Homo sapiens: one gene and its partner. The protein of the gene in region 2 interacts with the protein of the main gene of each other region in a pairwise test. Each region holds a gene or a part of one and is shown on either strand. Other genes may lie near its edges.

The links.
Region 1: the proteins of ANKRD2 (region 2) and MAPK6 interact in binary tests that used the Homo sapiens proteins (3 or more experiments, as listed by UniProt).

The regions. Positions count from the first base shown.
Region 1 is NC_000015.10:52,021,594-52,032,516, forward strand, and holds part of MAPK6 (mitogen-activated protein kinase 6), read left to right. Parts: intron 1-6,045; exon of another isoform or gene 6,046-6,280; intron 6,281-10,923. UniProt on the Homo sapiens protein: Atypical MAPK protein. Phosphorylates microtubule-associated protein 2 (MAP2) and MAPKAPK5.
Region 2 is NC_000010.11:97,573,082-97,584,004, reverse strand, and holds the end of ANKRD2 (ankyrin repeat domain-containing protein 2), read right to left. Parts: intron 6,206-10,923; coding exon 6,104-6,205; intron 5,766-6,103; coding exon 5,607-5,765; intron 5,508-5,606; coding exon 5,400-5,507; intron 3,151-5,399; coding exon 3,052-3,150; intron 2,690-3,051; coding exon 2,591-2,689; intron 1,691-2,590; coding exon 1,592-1,690; intron 1,402-1,591; coding exon 1,303-1,401; intron 430-1,302; coding exon 280-429; 3' UTR 121-279; downstream 1-120. UniProt on the Homo sapiens protein: Functions as a negative regulator of myocyte differentiation. May interact with both sarcoplasmic structural proteins and nuclear proteins to regulate gene expression during muscle development and in response to muscle stress.

The DNA of each region.
Region 1 (10,923 bases), on a different chromosome or scaffold from region 2:
ATTAAATGTTTGATACTAGCAGTTTTTTGGCTACTGCTGAGAGAGATTTGTTACAGGTTGTTTATAAAGGACAGATAGTACTTTTATGGTGTCGGTAGAAATTGACCTTATGTTTTTATTGGTTATGTGAAAGTTATCTTTATATTTAATATTTAATCAGATATGGCTCTGAATATGAAAGTTTCACTCAGAATTATTAAAACATAATTATATATTGTGCTTTGTGATTTATGTGAATTTTCTGTTTTAATAAAGACAATTTGAAATAGGTATTAGTCACTATTTTTCATGGTTTTTTTTTAAAGATAAGCTGAATGTACAGTTCTAAGTTGAAACTTGGTAATAAGATAAATCTTTTGACTGATTTTAAAACAGCCAACGTTTAGCAAGGTGGCTTAAAATAAGATTGAGAGGGGGAAAAAGATTGAGAATGGCAGTTTAAGAGTGGGGCTGGGTGCGTTGGCTCACACCTGTAATCCCGGCACTTTGGGAGCCTGAGGTGGAAGGATCGCTTGAGGCCAGGAGTTCAAGACCAGTCTGGGCAACATAACGAGACCCTGTCTCAATTTTTAAAATAAAAGAAAAAAAATTTCCCACCCCATCCTCTGGTTTTTCTGTGTATACTGTTTATTTTTCCAAAGGGATTTGAGGAGTTTGTGGACAGTAAAGTGTTTGTTGTTTTTGTGAGACAGGGTCTTGCTCTGTCACCCTGGCTGGAGTGTAGTGGTGCGATCACTGTTCACTGCAACCTCTACTTCCCGGGCTCAGGTGATCTTCCTGCCTCAGCCTCCGGAGGAGCTGGGACTACAGCTGTGTGCGACCATGCCTGGCTAGTTTTTCGTATTTTTTGTAGAGATGAATGTTCACAGTGTTGCCCAGGCTGTTCTTGAACTCCTGGGCTCAAGCAATCTGCCTGCCTCAGCCTTCCAGAGTGTTGGGATTACAGGTGTGAGCCCCTGCTCCCAGCCCATAAAATGTATTGTTAATGTGAATTAAATTTTTGGAACTATTTTGGAAGAGTATTGCATGATTTATACCTAGAGGTTTTTTTTTTACAAAGTTTAATTCAAACTTAAAAAAAATTTCCTACTAGAGGAAACATAAAAATACAAATATAAAAGTATTGAAAATTTTCAGAGCATCACATTACTTAGAGGTTTAACGTATTTTCGGCATTGTTTTCAAATATAGGTAATTAGCTGTAGTGCATAATTCAGAGTTTAAAAACAAACTGAGGCCGGGGGCAGTGGCTAACGCTTGTAATCCCAGCACTTTGGGAGGCTGAGGAGGCAGATCACGAGGTCAGGAAATCGAGACCATCCTGGCCAACATGGTGAAACCCCGTCTCTAATAAAATACAAAAATTAGCTGGGTGTGGTGGCACGTGCCTGTAATCCCAGCTACTCAGGAGGCTGAGGCAGGAGAATCGCTTGAACCCGGGAGGCAGAGGTTGCAGTGAGCCGAGATTGTGCCAGTGCACTCCAGCCTGGGTGACAGAGCGAGACTCCGTCTCAAAAAAAAAAAAAAAAAAAAAACCGAAAAACAAACAAAATAACTGGATATCTTAGCCTGCTTCCTGTCTCCAAGGTACTGCTTTATGAAATGCTGAGCCTTCTTACCACTGCTATCCAGTTCTTTGTTACATTTGAACCTTGTGTTACTCTAGGTCCCCTGTTAAAATGGAAAGAAGATGCCTCAGAAGTAAATTCTGTGTGGCATTGTTGGCTGCCTTCATTAGTTCCTTCAGCCTGTTTTGTGGGCTGTTGAACATTACACTACAACCTGCCAGTGGTGTGGGAATTTTGCTCATTTTTATTGCTGAGAGCCTTGACTGAGACTTCACAAAAACAACTCCAATGTTACTGTAGTTAATGGCATTTTCCAGGGGTTGCTTTCATGTGAAGCTGATGCTTTTAAGGTGACAGTGATTTGGGCCTAGTCCAGCATTGATTGGTTTTTTCACCTCCATGAACTGCGTATTTGGAAAATAATGTGTGTCTCTCTAAGAGTTTTTTTGTTTGTTTGTTTTTTGTTTTTGAGACGCTGTCTCCCTCTGTTGCCAGGCTGGAGCGCAGTCGCGCCATCTCGGCTCACTGCAACCTCCACCTCCTAGGTTCAAGCGATTCTTCAGCTTCAGCCTCCCGAGTAGCTGGGACTACAGGTGCGCACCACCATGACCAGCTAATTTTTGTATTTTTTTTAGTACAGACAGGGTTTCATTATGTTGGCCAGGATGGTCTCATCTCCTGACCTTGTGATCCGCCTGCCTGGGCCTCCCAAAGTGCTGGGATTACGGGCATGAGCCACCGCGCCCAGCCAATAGAGTTCTAAAAGTTTTGTCTTTTATACATGTCAGTCTTCTAAGTCCATTTCTAAAAAATTGTTCAGAGATTGAATGTTTGTATAGCAAATACAATTTCCCATTGATTTTCGTTAAATTTGGTATTTTTTTCACAGAAAAAAATGGTATCATAAAACTTGTTTTTTAGAATCCTAGCATTTACCTCAGAAAAGTCTGCCTCTGCAGAAAGTGCAAATCTGTATGCATTTAATTCTGTACAATCATAAAACTTTAAAATATTAGTGTTTTGGAGGGGTCATGGGCATTATCTTGCTTCATTCATGTACATCGTTTGACAGCTAAGGAAACCAAGGCCTGAAGAGATCTAAGATCTTGGTACTGAAAGTGTGATTTCTGGACCAACAGTATTAGCATCACCTGGGAACTTGATAGACGTTAGAATCTTGACTTCATCTCAGTCCTACGGTCCTACTGAATTAGAATCTTAGAATCTACTTTTTCTTTTTCTTTTTTTTTTTTTTTGGAGACGGAGTCTCACTCTGTCACCCAGGCTAGAGTGCAGTGGCACGATCTTGGCTCACTGCAAGCTCCGCCTCCTGGGTTCACGCCATTCTCTTGCCTCAGCCTCCTGAGTAGCTGGGACTACAGCTGCTGCCACCGCGCCTGGCTAATTTTTTGTGTTTTTAGTAGAGACGGGGTTTCACCGTGTTAGCCAGGATGGTCTCGATTTCCTGACCTTGTGATCCGCCCGCCTCGGATCCGCCCGCCCGCCCAGCACTCCCAAAGTGCTGGGATTACAGGTATGAGCCACCGCGCCCGGCCTTCTTTTTTTGTAAATAAGAGGCACAATCTTGCCCTGTTGCCCAGTTTGGATTGGAGTGTAGTGGTGTGATCATAACGCACTGCCACCTGGAACTCCTGGACTCAAGTAATCCTCTCACCTCAGTAGCTGGGACTACAGGCATGTGCCATCATACACTGCCTTTTTTTTTTTTTTTTTTTTTTTTAAGAATTGGAGTCTCACTGTGTTGCCCATGCTCGTCTCAAACTCCTGGCCTCCTAACGTGCTGGGAAGAACCTGCATTTTAACAAGATTTTCAAGTCATTCAGTGCGCATTCAGTTTGAGAAGCACTGCTAAACGATGCATACACCTGGGCAACATAGTGAGACCCTGTCTCTACAAAATAAAATAAAATTAGCCTGTTGTAGTGGTGCACACCTTTAGTCCCAGCTACTTATGAGGCTGAGATGAGAGGATTGCTTGAGCCCAGGAGGTTGAGGCTGCAGTGAGCCGTGATCGCACCGCAGCGTTCCAGCCTGGGCAACAGCAAGAGACCCTGTCTCAAAAAATACGTAAATAAATAAAAATTAAAATGATGCATACATGGTTGCTCAGCTCGTTAGTCTTCTGAGTTGCTCTTTCCACTGGCCCTTCTGAAAAAAGTCAAATGGAAAATTTGGAAGCTAATCACTGCCCAGTTGAACTTTCTATGATGATAGAAGTGTTCTGTGCTATCCAGTGAGGTAGCCATTGGCCATGTGTGACTGTTGAATACTTGACGAGCAAGTAGTGCACTTGAGGAATTGAATTTTTTATTTAATTTTAATTCCTTTAAATAGTTGGGGCTGGGCGCCGTGGCTCACGCCTGTAATGCCAGCACTTTGGGAGGCTGAGGCGGGCGGATCACGAGGTCAGGAGATCGAGACCATCCTAGCTAACATGGTGAAACCCTGTCTCTACTAAAAATACAAAAAATTAGCCGGGTGGCGGGCGCCTGTAGTCCCAGCTGCTTGGGAGGCTGAGGCAGGAGAATGGCATGAACCCAGGAGGCGGAGCTTGCAGTGAGCGCCACTGCACTCCAGTCTGGGTGACAGAGCAAGACTACGTCTCAAAAAAAAATAAAAATAGTTGGATGTAGCTGGTGGTTACATGGACAGCACAGATCTAGATGATCTTTGCCCACTCTAAAATCTAAGCTGTAATTTAATAACTGGTTAGACTCAGTTTAATAATTGTCCTTTCTTAATGTACAAATTGGAGAGAGAGTATGTTGACTTAGTTTTTCTAATATGCCCAGATATTATTTCAGTATGTATTATAAAACAGTGCTGATTTTCTAATTGATACATCTGTGTTCAATAAAGTAGATAATCTAAGTTGTAAGCAAGTCAGTTTCTTTCCATCTTAACAGGTATTTTCACTTGAATTTTTAAAAAGTAGCTATTAAGTTTTCCTTAGTTATCCTGTGGAAAGCATTGGCAGGATAGTTTTTGCCTCTGGCCTAGTCCCTCTAGGCTTGTTGGCACTTGTTGATTACTTCCAGATTGATCTGCTGTTTATGTTAATTCCAGGTACCGAAACAGTGGTTCTTAACCTCCTACCTTTTTTTGTTTTGTTGTTGTCGTTGTTTTGAGACGGAGTTTTGCTCTTATTGTTCAGGTTGGAGTGCAATGGTGTGATCTTCGCTCACTGCAGCCTCCGCCTCCTGGGTTCAAGTGATTCTCCTGCTGCAGCCTCCCAAGTAGCTGGGATTACAGGCATGCACCACCACGCCCAGCTAATTTTATGTTTTTAGTAGAGATGGGGTTTCAACCATGTTGGCCAGGCTGGTCTTGAACTCCTGACCTCAAGTGATCCACCCGTCTCGGCCTCCCAAAGTGCAGGGATTACAGGCGTGAGCCACCGTGCCTGGCCTTAACCTCCCACCTTATGCAGTGGGAAGATTCTAACCCTATAGTCACAGGCCTATGTCCAAATCTTGGCATTTACTGTGTGTGTAAAGAGCATCAGTGCTCTTGTTTGTAAAATGACATTTACAAGACTGTAGTTTGAGATGAGAGAAATAATTTGTCATTTAGAAAATGCCTGTCATGGCTGGGCGCGATGGCTCATGCCTGTAATCTCAGCACTTTGGGAGGCCGAGGCAGGCGGATCACAAAGTCAGGAGTTCTAGACTAGCCTGGCCAACATGATGAAAACCCGTCTTTACTAAAATACAAAAAATTAGCTGAGTATGGTGGTGCATACCTGTACTCCCAGCTACTCTGAAGGCCCAGGCAGGAGAATCGCTTGAACCCAGGAGGCGGAGGTTGCAGTGAGCCGAGATCACACCATTGCACTCCAGCCTGGGCGACAGAGCAATACTCTGTCTTGAAAAAAGAAAATGCCTGTCACAGCCGGGCGCGGTGGCTAATGCCTGTAATCCCAGGACTTTGGGAGGCCGAGGCGGGCGGATCACAAGGTCAGGAGTTCAAGACCAGCCTGGCCAGCGTGGTGAAACCCCATCTCTACTAAAAATACGAAAAAACTGGCCATGGTAGCGTATGCCTGTAATCCCAGCTACTCGGGAGGCTGAGACAGAAAAATTGCTTGAACCCAGCAGGCGGAGCTTGCAGTGAGCCGAGATCGTGCCACTGTACTCCAGGCTGGGTGACAGAGCGAGACTCCCTCTCAAAAAAAAAAAAAAAAAAAGAAAATGCCTGTCACATAATAGGTCCTTAGTAGATGTAAGTTACCTACCCTCCCCCTCCTGCTTGGATTTTATAGCCCTCTGTAATTGAGTTTTATGCTTAAGATTCCAATCAGGCTTAATACATATTCTGAGTCTTCATCTCTACCCGTTACTGTAATTTCATGCCTTGCTTTGTTCATGTTGTATCCCATGTAGATTGTGCCATTTGTGCTCTGGATGTCTTCTCTTGACTTTTTTTTTAATCTTAATTTTTTTTTTTTTTTTTATAGGCGGGGTCTCCCTGTGTTGCCCAGGCTGGGCTCAAGCAATCATCCTGACTCGGCCTCAAAAAGTGCTGGGATTACAGGCATGAGCCACTCTGCTCAGCCTGTTGATTTCTCTTTATTTATTTATTTATTTATTTATTTATTTACTGTTTTTTGAGATGGAGTCTCACTCTGTTGGCCAGGTTGGAGTGCAGTGGCACGATCTTGGCTCACTGCAGCCTCTGCGTCCCAGATTCAGGTGATTCTTCTGCCTCAGCCTCTTGAGTAGTTGGGACTGCAGGTGCCCACCACCACGCCCGGCTAATTTTTGTATTTTTTTTTTTTTTTTTTTTTTTTGAGACGGAGTCTCGCTCTGTTGCCCAGGCGGAGTGCAGTGGTGCGATCTCAGCTCACTGCAAGCTCTGCCTCCCAGGTTCACGCCATTCTTCTGCCTCAGCTTTCCGAGTAGCTGGGACTACAGGCGCCTGCCACCACGCCCGGCTAATTTTTTGTATTTTTAGTAGAGACAGGGTTTCACCGTGTTAGCCAGGATGGTCTCGATCTCCTGACCTTGTGATCCGCCCGCCTCGGCCTCCCAAAGTGCTGGGATTACAGGTGTGAACCACCGCGCCCGGCAATTTTTGTATTTTTAGTAGAGACGGATTCGTCTCTGTGTTGACCAGGCTGGTCTTGAACTACTGACCTCAAGTGATTCATCTGCCTTGGCCTCCCAAAGTGCTGGGATTACAGGAGTGAGCCATCGCACCCTGCCAGCCTGTTGACTTCTTAAGGACTTACCTCGTTCTTGCCTACATCATGAATTTTTCCCTTTCTGGATTATCTTTATTAATATGCAGATGTGCTTTAGGGCTGTACTGTCCAGTATGGTAGCTACTAATCAATAGTGCTTTCTGCAATGAAATGTGTGGCTGTTAAAAGAAAAATTTAAAAAATTTAGGTCCTCAGTGATGCTAGTCATATTTCAGTTGTTCAGTAGCCATATATGGTGCTAATGGCTGCTCTATTGGACAGTGCAGATATAGAACATCCCTATCATTGCAGACAACACTATTGGACAGCACTAAGTGTGGCTTCCTTGTTTATAAGCCCTCTCGCCATTCCACATTATTCTCTAGCTACAGCCTCATTTCTCTGATTCTCTTCCAAGCCAGTTTTCAAAAGTTGTCTTTTTGTGCTCTCTCCACTTCCCTTTGCTTCTCAGCCTACTACAGATTGGCCTCCATTCTTACCACTAAAACTACTCTAGTCAAGGTTGCCAGTGGTTTCTATTTACTAAATTAGTCTTACAGGCTCTTGTAGGAGCATTCAATATAGTTGACCACTGTTTTCGGCCTATTCATCTACTTCTCATTTTATGAGACATATGTTCTTGTTTTCCTTCTACTTTACACCTTGTTATACTGTATGCTTTTTTTTGTTTCTGAGACGGAGTCTCGCTGTCGTCCAGGTTGGAGTGCAGTGGCGCAATATTGGCTCACTGCAACCTCCATCTACTGGGTTCAAGTGATTATCCTGCCTCAGCCTCCCCAGTAGCTGGGATTACAGGCGCACACCACCACGCCTGGCTAATTTTTGTATTTTTAGTAGAGATGGGGTTTCACCATGTTGGTCAGGCTGGTCTCGGAACTCCTGACCTCAGCCTCCTTATTACAGGCATAAGCCACTGCACCTAGCTTTGTTTTTTTTTAATTATTAAACAGGCTTCTCTCCTTTACCTGCCTCTAAGTATTGGCATACCTAAGACAGGATAAAACTCCTGGGTTTTTTTTTCACCCTCTTTTTCTAAATTCTTCCCTAGATGGTCTCATTCAACTCATTGTTTTAAATGCCATCTGTATGTGAATAATTCTCATATTTATGTTTCTGGTTTAGACTTCTTGCCTGAGCTCCAGACATATTATCCAACTGCCTTGCTAGACATTACCACTTAGTAACCTAGTAGGCAGTTGTCTAAATATACCTAACATGTCCAAAATAGAACTCTCTTCCATAATATTCTTCCAGTCTTTCTCTCTTCTGTAACTGGCACCTAGGATTTATCCTTGAATCCTGTTTTTCCCTTATCCCCATAGCTAATCCATCATCAAGTTCTTTTGGTCTCCAAAATATCACTTAAATCTGTTTATTCAATTATCTGTTTTACATCTTTATTTCTGCCACCTTAGTCTCAGCCACCATTATGTCACCTGGCTTACTGAAATAGCTCTTAACTGGTCTTTGCTTTTACTCAGCTACCTTCTTCAGACATTCTTCTCCCAGTAACAAGAATCTTCTTTCAGAAATGTAAATGAAATAATGTAGATTGCCTGCTTAAAATGGTTTCATAGTTTTTCTTTGGTCTTAGTTATGAGATTCAGAATCCTGCCTCATGTGTTCCTTCCTTCCTCATTGCTACCTCCTTTCCTTTGCCCTTTGCTGTGGATGCTGTGGCTACACTGGCATTTCTTTTGCTCCAAAATGCCAAGTTTTATCCTGCCTTAGGTTTGTTCAATTTGTTGTTTCCTCTGTTAGGAATGCCCTTCTCCCATCTCTTAGCAGTGCTGGTAGCTTCTTATTCAGGTTTCAGCTCCTCAGAGGGCCATTTCCCAGCTACTAGGCCAAATCTGAATTTGTTAATTAGCTAACATGTTTGTTGGTCTTTCCTTACTAGAATGCGAGCTCTTCGGAAGCAGAAGAACCTTGTCTGTCTTATTCTCTACTATATTGTCAAACAGTGCCTGGCACATGCTAAGTGCTCAGTAAATTTTTGTGGACTGTATAAAATGTTTGATTCCTTTAAATCTCAGAAGGGAAAAACTGCATAATAATTGCATTGTACCCAGTGTAACGTGATTCTGGACTGGGTCCTTTACCTCCCAAGTACATGATTGAGATAATTGCAGAAACTTAAATGGGGCCTGATTATCAGATGGTAGTACTATACCAGCGTTAATTTCTTGATTTTGATGGTTGTGTTTTAGTTATGCAGAAGAAGGCTTTTTTTTTTTTTTTTTTTTTTTTTTTTTTGAGGCAGAGTCTCACTCTGTTGCCCAGGATGAAGGAGTACAGCGGTGCAATCTTGGCTCAGTGCAACCTGCGCTTCCCAGGTTCAAGGGATTCTCCTGCCTCAGCCTCCCGAGTAGCTGGGACTACAGGCGTGTGCCACCATGCCCAGCTAATTTTTTTTTTTTTTTTGAGACAGGCTCTCAGTCTGTTACCCAGGCTGGAATGCAGTGGCGTGATCTCGGCTGACTGCAGTCTCTGCCTCCTGGGTTCAAGCAATTCTCGTGCCTCAGCCTCCTGAGTGGCTGGGATTACAGGCATGTGCCACCATGCCTGGCTCATTTTTTTGTATTTTTAGTAGAGACAGGGTTTCACCATGTTGGTCAGTTTGGTCTTAAACTCTTGACCTCAAAGGATCCACCCGCCTTGGCCTCCCAAAGTGCTGGGATTACAGGTGTGAGCCACCATGCCTGGCCTTAATTTTTGTATTTTTAGTAGAGAGACAGGGTTTCCCCCTGTTGGCCAGGCTGGTCTCAAACTCCTCACTTGAAGTGATCCGCCCACCTTGTCCTCCCAATGTGCCGGGACTACAGGTGTGAGCCACTGCCCCCAGCCAGAAGAAGGTCTTTGTCTATAGGAAATATACTCTACTCAAAAGGTTGGGGAGTGAAGGGAGATATGTACTATACTTGTCAATAAAAAAATAAGTTACAGTGAGAGATAATGGAATTTGGTTTACAAACCTGGTTCAAATCCTGGCTCTCTCATTCATGTGTGATCTTGAATGTGTTTTTTAAGTTCTCTAAAATAAAGATTATATTTTGCCTATTTTGCCTATTGGGAGGATTTAGTGTAAGGGTATATGTCCAACACAATGCTTCACACATAATACAGTCTCAATAAAACCTTGCTTATATTCTTGTAAAATGTTGACCAGGCGTGGTGGCTCACACCTGTAATCCCAGCACTTTGGGTGGCCAAGGTGGGAGGATCGCTGGAGCCCAGGAGTTCAAGACTAGCATAGGCAACATTGGGAAACCTTGTCTCTACCAAGATAATAAAAAATTGAGCCGGGTGTGGCACCTTGCACGGTGGTCATAGCTACTCAGAAGGCTGAGATGGTCCACCCACCTTGAGCAATGGAGGTGGAGGTTGCAATGAGTCATGTTCATGCCACTGCACTTCAGCTTGGGCAAGCGAGATCCTGTCTCAAGATAAATAAAATAAAAATTTCACCATTTTATTTTCATGTTCAGTGCTGTGACTTTCTTTATAATATGAACAAATAATTTTTTTTTTTTGAGGCGGAGTCTCGCTCTGTTGCCCAGGTTGGAGTACAGTGACACGATCTCGGCTCACTGCAAGCCCTGCCTCCCGGGTTCATGCCATTCTTCTGCAGCGCCCACCACCACGTCTGGCTAATTTTTTTTGTATTTTTAGTAGAGATAGGGTTTCACCATGTTAGCCAGGATGGTCTCGATCTCCTGACCTCATGATCCGCCTGCCTCGGCCTCCCAAAGTGCTGGGATTACAGGCGTGAGCCACCGTGCCCAGCCCAACAATTTTTAATTTTTTTTTTTTTTTTTTTTTTTGAGACAGAGTCTTGCTCTGTTGCCAGGCTGGAGTGCAGTGGTGCAATCTCGGCTCACTGCAACCTCCGACTCCCTGGTTTAAGCGATTCTCCTGCCTCAGCCTCCCGAATAGCTGGGATTACAGTCATGTGCCACCATGCTCAGCTAATTTTGTATTTTTCATAGAGATGGGGTTTCTCCATTTTGGCCAGGCTGGTCTTGAACTCCCAGCCTCAGGTGATCCATCTGCCTTGGCCTCCCAAAGTGCTGGGATTACAGGCGTGAGCCACTGTGCCTGGCCGTGGATAGATATTTTTAATAGACTTTT
Region 2 (10,923 bases):
TGCAGGGCTGGCTCAGAGGGCCAACCGGCTCCCAGTTTCCCTCCTCCCCAAACCAGCATTTGCCCCCAGTCTTCCTTCATTCCCAAAGATTTCAGACACAAGTGGAAATGAACATCGCAATTAGCAAAAACAGCTTTTTTATTGTGGTAGTTTGTGGTATGTGCTCCTGGATCATGCAGAAAAAAGGCTGGGCCCTCAGTTAGCTCCGGGAGCCATTCTTAGGACCCTCCGGCTGCACACAGAGAGGGGCTGGGTAGCTGGCTGGGCTGGGGCACGCATTCACTGGGCTGGCACAGGCTGAGGGGTCTCTCGCCCACTATCATTAGGCCCCTCCAGCCCGTTATGCTCAGCCCCCGGCTCAGGATGCTCCAGGGCGTGCCGGGTATCAGCCTGCCAGAGCTGCACCAGGTCCGTCGGGGTCTTTCCTGCCTGGAGGGGGCGGGACGGGGCGTGGGGGTTGGCAAGAGAAAATCTGTTAACTGTCCTGAAGGCTTTCACAGAAGGTACCCTCATTGACACCACCAGTGCTTCTCAAATGGGGGCAACTGGCATTGTGTGAAGATACTTTTGGTTGTCACACTAGGGGATGGGTACTACTGGCATCTAGTGGGCAGAGGCCAAGAATGTTGCTTAAATATCCTACAAGGCATAGGATGGTCCCCTACAACAAACAATCACCCAGCCCTAAATGTCAATAATGCTGAGGGTGAAAACCCCTCATTTATACCTTCTCCATATTTTCCTGCTTTTCTCATTATCCCTTTAGCCTTTCTTGAGCCCGAGGGACTCTCCCATGGCCTCCTTTTGTGAATGCTCTGGGCCCCAAAGAAGAACTTGGACTAAGTGTTCCCTAGTCCAAGGTGTTCCCTGGGCACCTTCCCCTTCCAAGGACTTCCTGCCTAGATCCTAAGAAAACTCAAAGACCACAGGAGCTGACATGGGGTGCTAGGAACTGTCATGCCAGCTGAGTGCTCGGTCCCTTCCAGCTCTGGCCTTTCATGATTCTGGCCTCCTTGGGCCAGTACTTGAGGACCCCCTCTGGCCTACTTGGGGGTCTTTGGGAAGTCCTCTTGCTGCCCCTCCTGCTGTCTCTCTGCACTTGCACTCTGGACATAGACACACATAGAGAATGGGGCGGACAGTTGGAATGGTGCTCTGGAAGAGGACAAGTTTATGTACTATGGTGCTGGCCAGAGCCAATGATACATGTCCCTAGGCGGGGGCTGCTCCAGGGACCAGGACAGCACCTCCACTGTATGAGTGCTCACGCCAGTGACTGAATCAAGGAGGGAATGAGCTTACCAGGTTCTTGGTCATCATGTCAGCCCCATGCAGGAGCAGCAGTTTGATGATTTTGTAGCGGTTGAGCCTCACAGCGTCATGCAGGGCAGTATCCCCTTCCTAGAGTCAGTGTGGCACTCACTATGGCCCTTGTGGGCAGTGGGAGGAGGCAAGGGTGATGGGAGGTGGGCTGGAGACCCTGCTCAGGAGCCAAGTCCTGAAGGCCCCAGGAGGAAGGACACCACCTGTAGGGGCCCGCAGGCTGCCCACACACCCATGGCGGGTGAGCAGCGGACAGGCTAGCACTCACCCTGTCTCTGGCATTGATTTCCAGGCCCAGGGATAGAAAGTGCTCCACAATCTCCACCTGCCCTGTCCGGACTGCCACGTGCAGCGGGGTGCTCAGCAGCTGGGTGGGAGGAATCAGGAACTGCTAGTTGACGGGGCCTGAACTGTGGTACCCCTGGGAAGGCGGGGGCTGTCCTAACTCCAGCTTAATCCCTCTTCCAAGTCCTAGTGCCAAGGCCTGAGCCTTGGAGGGGCAGAGAATGGTACAATTTCTTACCATCCTATCCAATGGCCTAACTCTAAAGCCTTAAATGCCACTTCCTCTGGGAAGCCTTCTGTGATTCTCCTCTCACCCAGCTGCTCACTCTTCTACCCTTCTTTTAATAATCATAATATATGTCATTTATTGAGAGATGACTATGTAATGGACATGGCAAAAGCTTACAAGACATTTGCCTTATGTTGAATAAATAATTCATTTACACATGTTTTCCCACCTAAGCTACACAAGAACTCTGCAAGACATTTCACAGATGAGCAACAGAAGCTCAGAGGCTGTCACTTGTTCAAGGTTGTACATGAAATAATGAATGAATAGAAGGATGGTGCATAAATAAATAAATGAATGAGGGGATGAATAAATGGAGGAATGGATGGATGGATAGACGGATAGATGAATAGATAGGTAGACAGAAGGATAATGACAGATAACATGAACAAATCTTGCATCTTTTGAGTGGTCCCAAAGCCCCCAACACAGTGAGTCTCTTGTCTTCCCTTCTTGTCTGCTCTTCCTGCTCCTATCCTCAGATGGTGGTTCCTCAAGGGCCTGTGTGGATGGCAGGGACCCATCCCTGGGCTGGGAGGCCCAGTAGGACACTGTTTTAGCTTCCCTGCTCTGCAGCCAGAAACCAGACTAGCTCACTACCTTCCTGCCCCCTAGGCTTTCCTGCCCTTGGACCCCTGCCTTTCTCCCCACAGCCACCCCAATATCTGTTGCTTCTGAGTGTTTTTGCCTCACCTTATCCCTCACATTGGTGTCTGCTCCATGGCTTTGCAGAAGTTTCACCACCTCTAAGTGGCCCCCGCGGCAGGCCCAATGCATGGCTGTGCAGTCCAGCTAGAAAGAAATGAGGGGGTCTAACTACAGAGCTGCAGGGAAGAAAGTATTCGGGGGTAATGTACCCCAGCCAGGAAGGCAGAGGGATATCTAGGGGAAAGGTACAGGGAGCAGGCCTGGGCATGGGCAATGGACCAAGTGGAACAGAAGAACACTCAGGGCCCATCTGGTCCAAGCCAGACTCACAGAGGATGCTTAGGGAGGAGAAGGGGCTTACTCAAGGTCACATAAGCCACTGAGGTGGAGTCTGGCACCTGAGCAACCTGTTTATGCTTCAGGTTGGCACAGGTGGCAGGGAGAGGGTGTCTGTCAGTGCTGGACCCACCTCCTGTCTCCCATTGAATACCTGCCCTCTCACTCACCCGATCCTGGAAGTCCACAGTGGCCCCATTATCTAGAAGCTTCTCCAGGATTTCCATGTGGCCTTCCAGGGAAGCTCGGTGCAGTGCTGTCCGACGGAACTGTCCCCAGAGAGGCTGTCAGGGCCTGGCCTCTGGCTCCAGGCCTGAGCCCATCTCCCACCCAAGCTGAGGCCCAGGCCTTCCCCCCAGCTTGATTCTCACCCCTGTGCTTGGCCCCCATGTTTTCTGTGTTCTGCCAGCTCCCTTATGCTCTATCCAGACCAGCCTGGGAGCCCTCTGCCCCAGGGAACCCGACCTTCTCACTGCCCCCCAGGCACATCAAGCCATGCCTCTCTACAGGTGGTTTCCTCTGCCAAGCATGCCTGTTTTGCCCTCACTTCCTGGGAGTGCTTGATAAAATCTGCTACTCCTTCAAGATGCAGCTCAAATGCCATCATTTCCTTGAAACCTCTAGGCCAGGGCTTCCCTAGGGCCCAGATGACCCTTAACTGTGAGAGTGTGTTCGAGGGCAGGTCAAGTCTTGCTGGACTCCCCAAGTGCCTAGCACAAGGCCAGCATGAACAGGTGACACTGATCACTGATTCAAAGAAAGAATAAACTTTTCCCCTTCTCCTTTCTGCCTTGGACTTTTGAAACGCTCAAGCCACAATATCTTTCCATATTCTCATGATCTGGTTACAGGACACACACAGTGAGTATCTTTCCTTATTCTAATGATCTGGTTACATGTCAGTCTCCCCAAGGAACCAACCCTGGTCTGTTTTTTTGTTTTGTTTTGCTTTTTTTGTTTTTTTGTATTCTGGCACCTAGCATGGTGCTCGGAAGTAGGAGGTAGTTGGACAGACTGAGAGGATGAAGACTCTGGAGTCTAAAGAACAGAAAGGACATGTGGTCCAAGTCTACAATAATGCAGACCAAAGGTGGAAAACCACTAATGTGCCAAATTCCAGGATACGAGAGCAAGAAAGCACCCCGGGAAGTGTGAAAGAGGCAGTTTCAGGCAAAACAAAAAGAAGTATGATGGGTGATGAAAAATTTAGAAAATATGGCTGTAAGGGGCCGGACACGGTGGCTCATGCCTGTAATCCCAGCACTTTGGGAGGCCGAGGTGGGTGGATCACCTGAGATCATGAGTTCAAGACCAGCTTGTTGTCAAGGGCCAACATGTTGAAACCTTGTCTCTACTAAAAATAAACAAATTAGCCGGGTGTGGTGGCGGGCGCCTGTAATCCCAGCTACTCAGGAGGCTGAGGCAGGAGAATCACTTGAACCTGGGAGGTGGAGGCTGCTGTGAGCTGAGATCGCACCGCTGCACTCCAGCCTGGGGGACAGAGCAAGACTCCATCTCAAAAAAAAAGAAAAAGAAAAAAAAAGAAAATATGGCTGCACAACATTGTGAATGTAATTAATGCCACTGAATTGTACACTTAAAATGGTTAAAGTGGAACATTTCACGTTATGTTTTACCATGAAAAAAAAATAGGCCAGGAGTGGTGGTTCAAGCCTGTAATCCCAACACTTTGGGAGGCTGAAGTGGGAGGATTGCTTGAGCCCAAGAGGCGAAAGTTGCAGTGAGCTGAGATTGCGCCACTGCACTCCAGCCTGGGTGACAGAGTGAGACTCTGTCTCAAAAAAAAAAAAAAAAAGTACAGTACTATACCATGAGAAACAAAAATATCATATCTTAACACATGCTTGATAGTTTCTTCATTCATTCAGTGAATACTGAGTTACTGAGGTGCTAATATTCCTTTTTTCCTTTTACCAAAAAAAAAAAAAATCTATATCTTTATCTATATATGTATAGAGACAGGGTCTCACTCTGTTGCTTAGGCTGGTCTTGAACTCCTAGGCTCAAGCGCTCCTCCCACCTTGACCTAAAGTGCTGGGATTACAGACGTGAGCCACAGTGCCCAGCCTAATATTCCATTTGATCACCGTAACATGTTGTGAGGGAAGTAGGCCATTTTACAGAGGAGGAAACTGAGGCATGGAGAGGGCACCGACCCAGCCACAGGTCCCACAACTCGTGAGTGAGAGAGATGGGATTTGAGCCCACATCTTCTGGTCCTGGTCTGTTTTTATTTGATTCTATTTTTCTTTCTTTCCTAAACAAACATGTGACATTTGTTGCTCTGCAGGTGATTCAAGTTGGAAAAGGGTTTAAGGATTTAGGTCAATTCCTGTACGGGGAAGGGACACCCATTCTGAGCGCCCCAGCCACCCACCCATCCAAAGAACACCGGTGCCTCCTCTCAAATAGGCTCACAGTGGGCTGACCCAGGAGCCGAACGGAGTGGGGGTGGCAACTGACAGGGAGGCTGGTCAGGGGCGGCTAGGAGCATCACCTGGTCGCACGTGTCGGCTGACCCCCCGTCAGCCAGGAACTTCTCAATGACCTTCATTTTCCCCTCCACCGCAGCTTTCAGGAAGGTCTCCTCATCCACAGGGCCAGTCTGCAGATGTGGACGCAGCAGTCACGGGCCGTCCCAGCAATCCGAAGCCTCCCGGGCTCCCCCTCCGCCCCCTCGCGGTGTCCTCCCCAGGACCCTTACGATCTCCTCGGGCTCTGGGGGCGGCTCATGCGAGGCGGCCAGAGCGTCCCGCTTCTTCTGCTTGCGTTTCTTCCGCAGCTCGATGAGGTTCTGGATCCCGCCCACATCGATGATCTCCCGCCGCAGGTCCAGGGACGTCTTGCGCACGCGCTCTTGGCCCTGCGCGGGATGGCCCATCAACCCCCCAGGCCGGGCAGAGAGTTTGGGGGGCTTGGGAGACCTCTGAGCTAAGCTGGTGGGGAGGGTGGGGTGGGCAGGAAGACCCTCTTAAGAAAGAAGGAACCAAGGTCTATCCCTCCTTCCAGGCCTAGATGGCTCTCACATTGGGGGAATTCTGACTCAGTAGTTCTGGGACGGGGCGGAGATTCTGCAGGGCTAGCAAGCTCTACCGGGGGTGCTGAACTGCTGGTCCATGGGCCACGTGGGGAGAGGTGCAGACAGGCCATGGCTACCTGGCTGGTCCCCTGGGTGCAGACATTGGATCCTCCCAGGCTTACCTTCACCTTCTGCAGGGCTGCACTCTGAGCCCCGTGGTGCTTCTCATCCTCCAGCACCAGCAAGTCCATGGGCAGCTTCTGGCGTGCGTCTCCTCGGAGTTTCTGGTGATCCAAAGAGGGCACCTTCTCCAGGACCCGAGGAGACAGGCAGCCTCTCCCCCAACCACACCAAGGACACCCCACAGAGACATCCTCCTGGGTGGTCTCAGAGCCCTTCTGGCTGATCCTGGGGAGCCCCCAGCAAGAGCAGGGCCCCTGGAGGGGCCCCCAAAAGGGGTGAGTTCCCCACCTCAGCTTCAGCCCCAGTCCCAACCCTGAGCTCAGACACCTGCCCACTAACTGGCCTGGATCCCTGCAAAACAACATTAAAGGCCACCAGAGTTGAGTTTTTCATGAGATTAAATATATTCACTCTTTCAAGCACCAAGATTATTTTTTTCTTTACTTTTTTGGCATTAAAAATTCACTTTGGCTGGGTGTGGTAGTGCCAGCCTTTAGTCCCAGCTACTGGGGAGGCTTAGACAGAAGTATTGCTCAATCCCAGGGGTTCGAGACCAGCTCCAGAGACATAGCAAGATCGTGTCTCTAAAAATAAATAGGCCAGGCACAGTGGCTCACCTCTATAATCCCAGCACTTTGGGAGGCTGAGGTGGGAGGATCTCTTGAGCCCAGAAGTTTGAGATCAGCCTGGGCAATATAGTGAGACCCCATCTTTACAAAAAAATTAAATAATTAGCCAAGCGTAGTGGCTTTTGTTGTAGTGCCAGCTACTTGGGAGACTGAGGTGGGAGGATTACTTGAGCCCAGGAAGGGGAGGTTGCAGTGAGCCAAGGTCATGCCACTGCACTCCAGCCTGAGTGACAGTGAGAGAGAGAGAGAATGACCCTGCCTCAAAAAATAAATAGGCCAGGTACAGTGGCTCACGCCTATAATCCAAGCACTTTGGGAGGCCGAGGCAGGTGGATTGCTTGAGCCCAGGAGTTCGAGACCAGCCATAGGCAACATGGTGAAACCCCATCCCTACTAAAAATACAAAAATTAGCCAGGCGTGTTGGCACGCACCTGTAGTCCCAGCTACTTGGGAGGCTGAAGCACAAGAATCACTTGAACCCAGGAGGTGGAGGTTGCAGTGAGCCAAGATCGTGCCACTATACTCCAGCTTGGGCGGCAGAGTAAGACTCGGTCTCAAAAAATAAATAAATAAATAAATAAATAAATAAATAAATAAATAAAATAAGTTTTAAAAATAAATAATTCACTTTGATGAAATGATTATGATGAGAGATGATTACTTCTTAAATGTTCTTACTCAGCAATATAAAATTTGGCAGCTCTTTGTTAGATACTATTTTTTTTTTCTCTCAGATTTCACTGATCTGTGAAGTCTAGAGCTTGGAAACTATTGCTTTCAGGGGAACTTGGTGATGGGAGCAGCAGCTCCTCAGCCTTCAGCCTGAAACGGGCTCTAAGTCTTAACCTTCTTTTCACTGTAATCCAGGTCCAACTGCCTGCCAGGTCTTCTCTGCATTTGCCCTCTGATTTTCCTGGACTGCTTCTTCTCTCTTTGTGATGTGCTGGCACTCCCATCTCTGCAGTCCCCACCAGGCAGCTTGTGTGGCTATGAGTCCAGGAACAATTGCCCAGGTTGGAGGGTCCTGAGTCAATGTGGCAGCTGGGAAGGAGGCCACCCTTACAGAGCACTCAGGCCCCTTTCCCATTCCTCCCTGAGCTCCCGCATTTGCTCCTTCAGGGTGGTTTTGAGAGCCGATTTCCCAGGTCTTCATTCTGAAGGTTCTGTTAGCCACTGCTTTCTCTCTTTCATGTTGGGCTTCATGGTTTGAGGTCTCAGTGCTGGCCTAATCAGAAACACTGCATCTTCTTCCAAGAATGAAAGATAACCTGGGGCTGCAGCTACTGCTGCATGTGGGACTCTGGCTGGGCTCCTCAGGGAGCATCCAGAGGGCCAGCTTGTGTATTTTTTTTTTTTTTTTGAGACCGAGTCCCACTCTGTCACCCAGGCTGGAGTGCGGTGGTGTGATCTCGGCTTGCTGTAACCTCCACTTCCTAGGTTCAAGCAATTCTCCTGCCTCAGCCTCCTGAGTAGCTGGGACTACAGGCGCATGCCGCCACGCCTGGCTAATTATTTTTGTATTTTAGTAGAGACAGGGTTCCACCATGTTGCCCAGGCTGGTCCAAACTCCTGAGCTCAGGCAATCCGCCCACCTTGGCCTCCCAAAGTGTTGGGATTACAGGCGTGAGCTACTGCACCCGGCTATAAATTTTGTTGTTGTTGTCACATAGATGAGAGGTTTCCATGTTGTCCAGGCTGGCCTCAAATGCCTAGCCTTGCCTCCTTATGCGCCAGGACAACAGGCCTGAGCCACTGTGGCTCCCGAGCTTGTGTCTTAATCATCTTGGTGTCCCCAGCATCTGTGACAGGCTCTAGCACATAGTAGGTGCTTAGTGACTGGTGAATGAATGAATGATCGAATGGATGATGGCAAGCAGACTCAGCATCTCTGCTAACCCTTAAGTTCTCAGTGATGACCTAACCCAGTAAACTCGCCACAGTGGAACTCCAGCCCCTGCACTGGCCTCTGGGGCCCTCTTTCCCCTCCCACCCTGGGGATGGGGCACAGGCTAGACAGAGGTTCTCCTCCAAGAACCCTGCCAGGCTGGGGCCTGGTAGAGACAACTGGGGACTCTAATGCTCACCCACATCTTCCTCAGACCCTACAGCCCTTCATTTCAGGTTTGTCTTTGTGGGCTGGCACACAGTAGGTGCTCAGTAGCTGTTTGCTGCATTGAATGTGAGTTCATGAAACACACAAAGCTCCCACTTTACGTCATAGATTGCTATGCAGATTAAATGGGAGAATGCCTGTAAAATGCTTAGCACAGGGCCTGGCACTGGTGTCCTGACAGCTCTGTAGCTATATTTATTGGATGAATGAACGGAAGACACTGCTCTGCGTCCCCTTGCTGAAGGTCTGTGTGTCTATTGGCAGCACTCCAGAACTGGCATAGCAGCATGACTCACCTGCCTGGCACCAGCCAACCATAGGCACATGCCCTTGGGGGAGGGAGAAGTGGGATTCCTAGAGATCCAGGGATGCTTGCCCCAGCCAGGGCTCATTCCAAGCTCTTTCCTGACCTCATCCCTTCTTCCCTTGGGGTCTTGACCCTTCCTTCCTCCTCACCCCTCATTCAGTCACACTCCTTTTTTTGAATGGCATCTACCTCCAACCTGATTTATCTCCTCCCCTCCATTCCTGCTAGGGCCAGCCTTTTCCAACAAGTCCTTCTCAGGGCCATCAGAGCTGCTTTCCTAAAATAGGTCAGATGACACCAATCTCCCTCACTCAATAACATTTAGTGGCTCCTCACTGCCCACAGAATAAATATCTTTTACATGGCCCTCTCTGGCTTGTGTCTTTCCAGCCTTAGCCCCTACTACCAGACTTTATCAAGACAGCCACGCTTTCACTCATGGAAACTTCAGCTCCTGCATTTCCTGAGGCTGGAATACCCTCCACCATCCTGGACTCCACTGAGTCCCCTTGAAGGCCCAGCTCAGGTATCCTCCTGTCCACAGAGGAGTCCCCTTTTTTTTTTTTTTGAGACGGAGTCTCCCTCTGTCACCCAGGCTGAAGTGCAGTGGTGCGATCTCGGCTTACTGCAACCTCCGCCTCCCAGGTTCAAGCAATTCTCCTGCCTCAGCCTCCTGAGTAGCTGGGATTACAGGTGCCTGACACCATTCCTGGCTAATTGTATTTTTAGTAGAGACAGGATTTCACCATGTTGGCCAGGTGAGTCTCGAACTCTTGACTTCAAGTGATCTGCCCACCTCGGATCTCAGATCTCAAAATGCTGGGATTACAGGCTTGAGCCACTGCACCTGGCCCTGTCCACAGAGGAGTCCTTGAAGGCCCTCAGAACAATTCATGAGCCCCTTGTGTTCCTCCACTTCTGATTCACACCTCTATTTAGTCATTTCTTCCCTTTGCCTTGTTTCTTAGTTGACTATGAAACCAACAAATGGGCTAAAATGAATCCTGGGTTGGTAAAAAGAAGGCAGGGTCTGACCCTTATTGGTCCACCCATTTCTACAGCTCTGGGCTCTTGGCAGAGCCAACACTAGATGAAGTATTAGTTTAAATAAAGTGAAGAGTAGGGGCCGGGCATGGTGGCTCATACCTGTAATCCCAGTACTTTGGGAGGCCAAGGTGGGTGGATCATCTGAGGCCAGGAGTTTGAGACCAGCCTGACCAACAGAGTGAAACCCCATCTCTACTAAAAATACAAAAATTAGCCAGGCATGGTGGTGCATGCCTGTAATCCCAGCTACTCGGGAGGCTGAGGCAGGAGAATCGCTTGAACCCAGGAGGCGGAGGTTGCAGTGAGTCAAGATCATGCATTGCACTCCAGCCTGGGCAACAGAGGGAGACCCCGTCTCAAAAAAAAAAATGCAGAATAGGACAAGCCAGCACCCCCTGCCACCGCTCCACTTCCTTATCCCAGAGAAAATGCAATTGCCCAGAACACCACACGCCAAAGGACTCCCCAAGGGTGGCCAGCAGGCTGGCAAAATCCATGCTTCATTTCCCAGCATCCCTTCCTCACTCTCTTCTTCACTGGCCAAATACTGGAGTTTCCCCTGCCCCAGCCTCCCACTCAGTCACTGGGGCATCACAGGGCCACACATTCCTGAAAGTCCCAGGCAGCACCCAGCTGTCTGCTTTGTACAGCCCACTGTCTCTCAAGGCCCAGGAGGGTGAGCAGTCTTAGGAAGCCCAGCCCAGCTCCCCATCTCACTGACT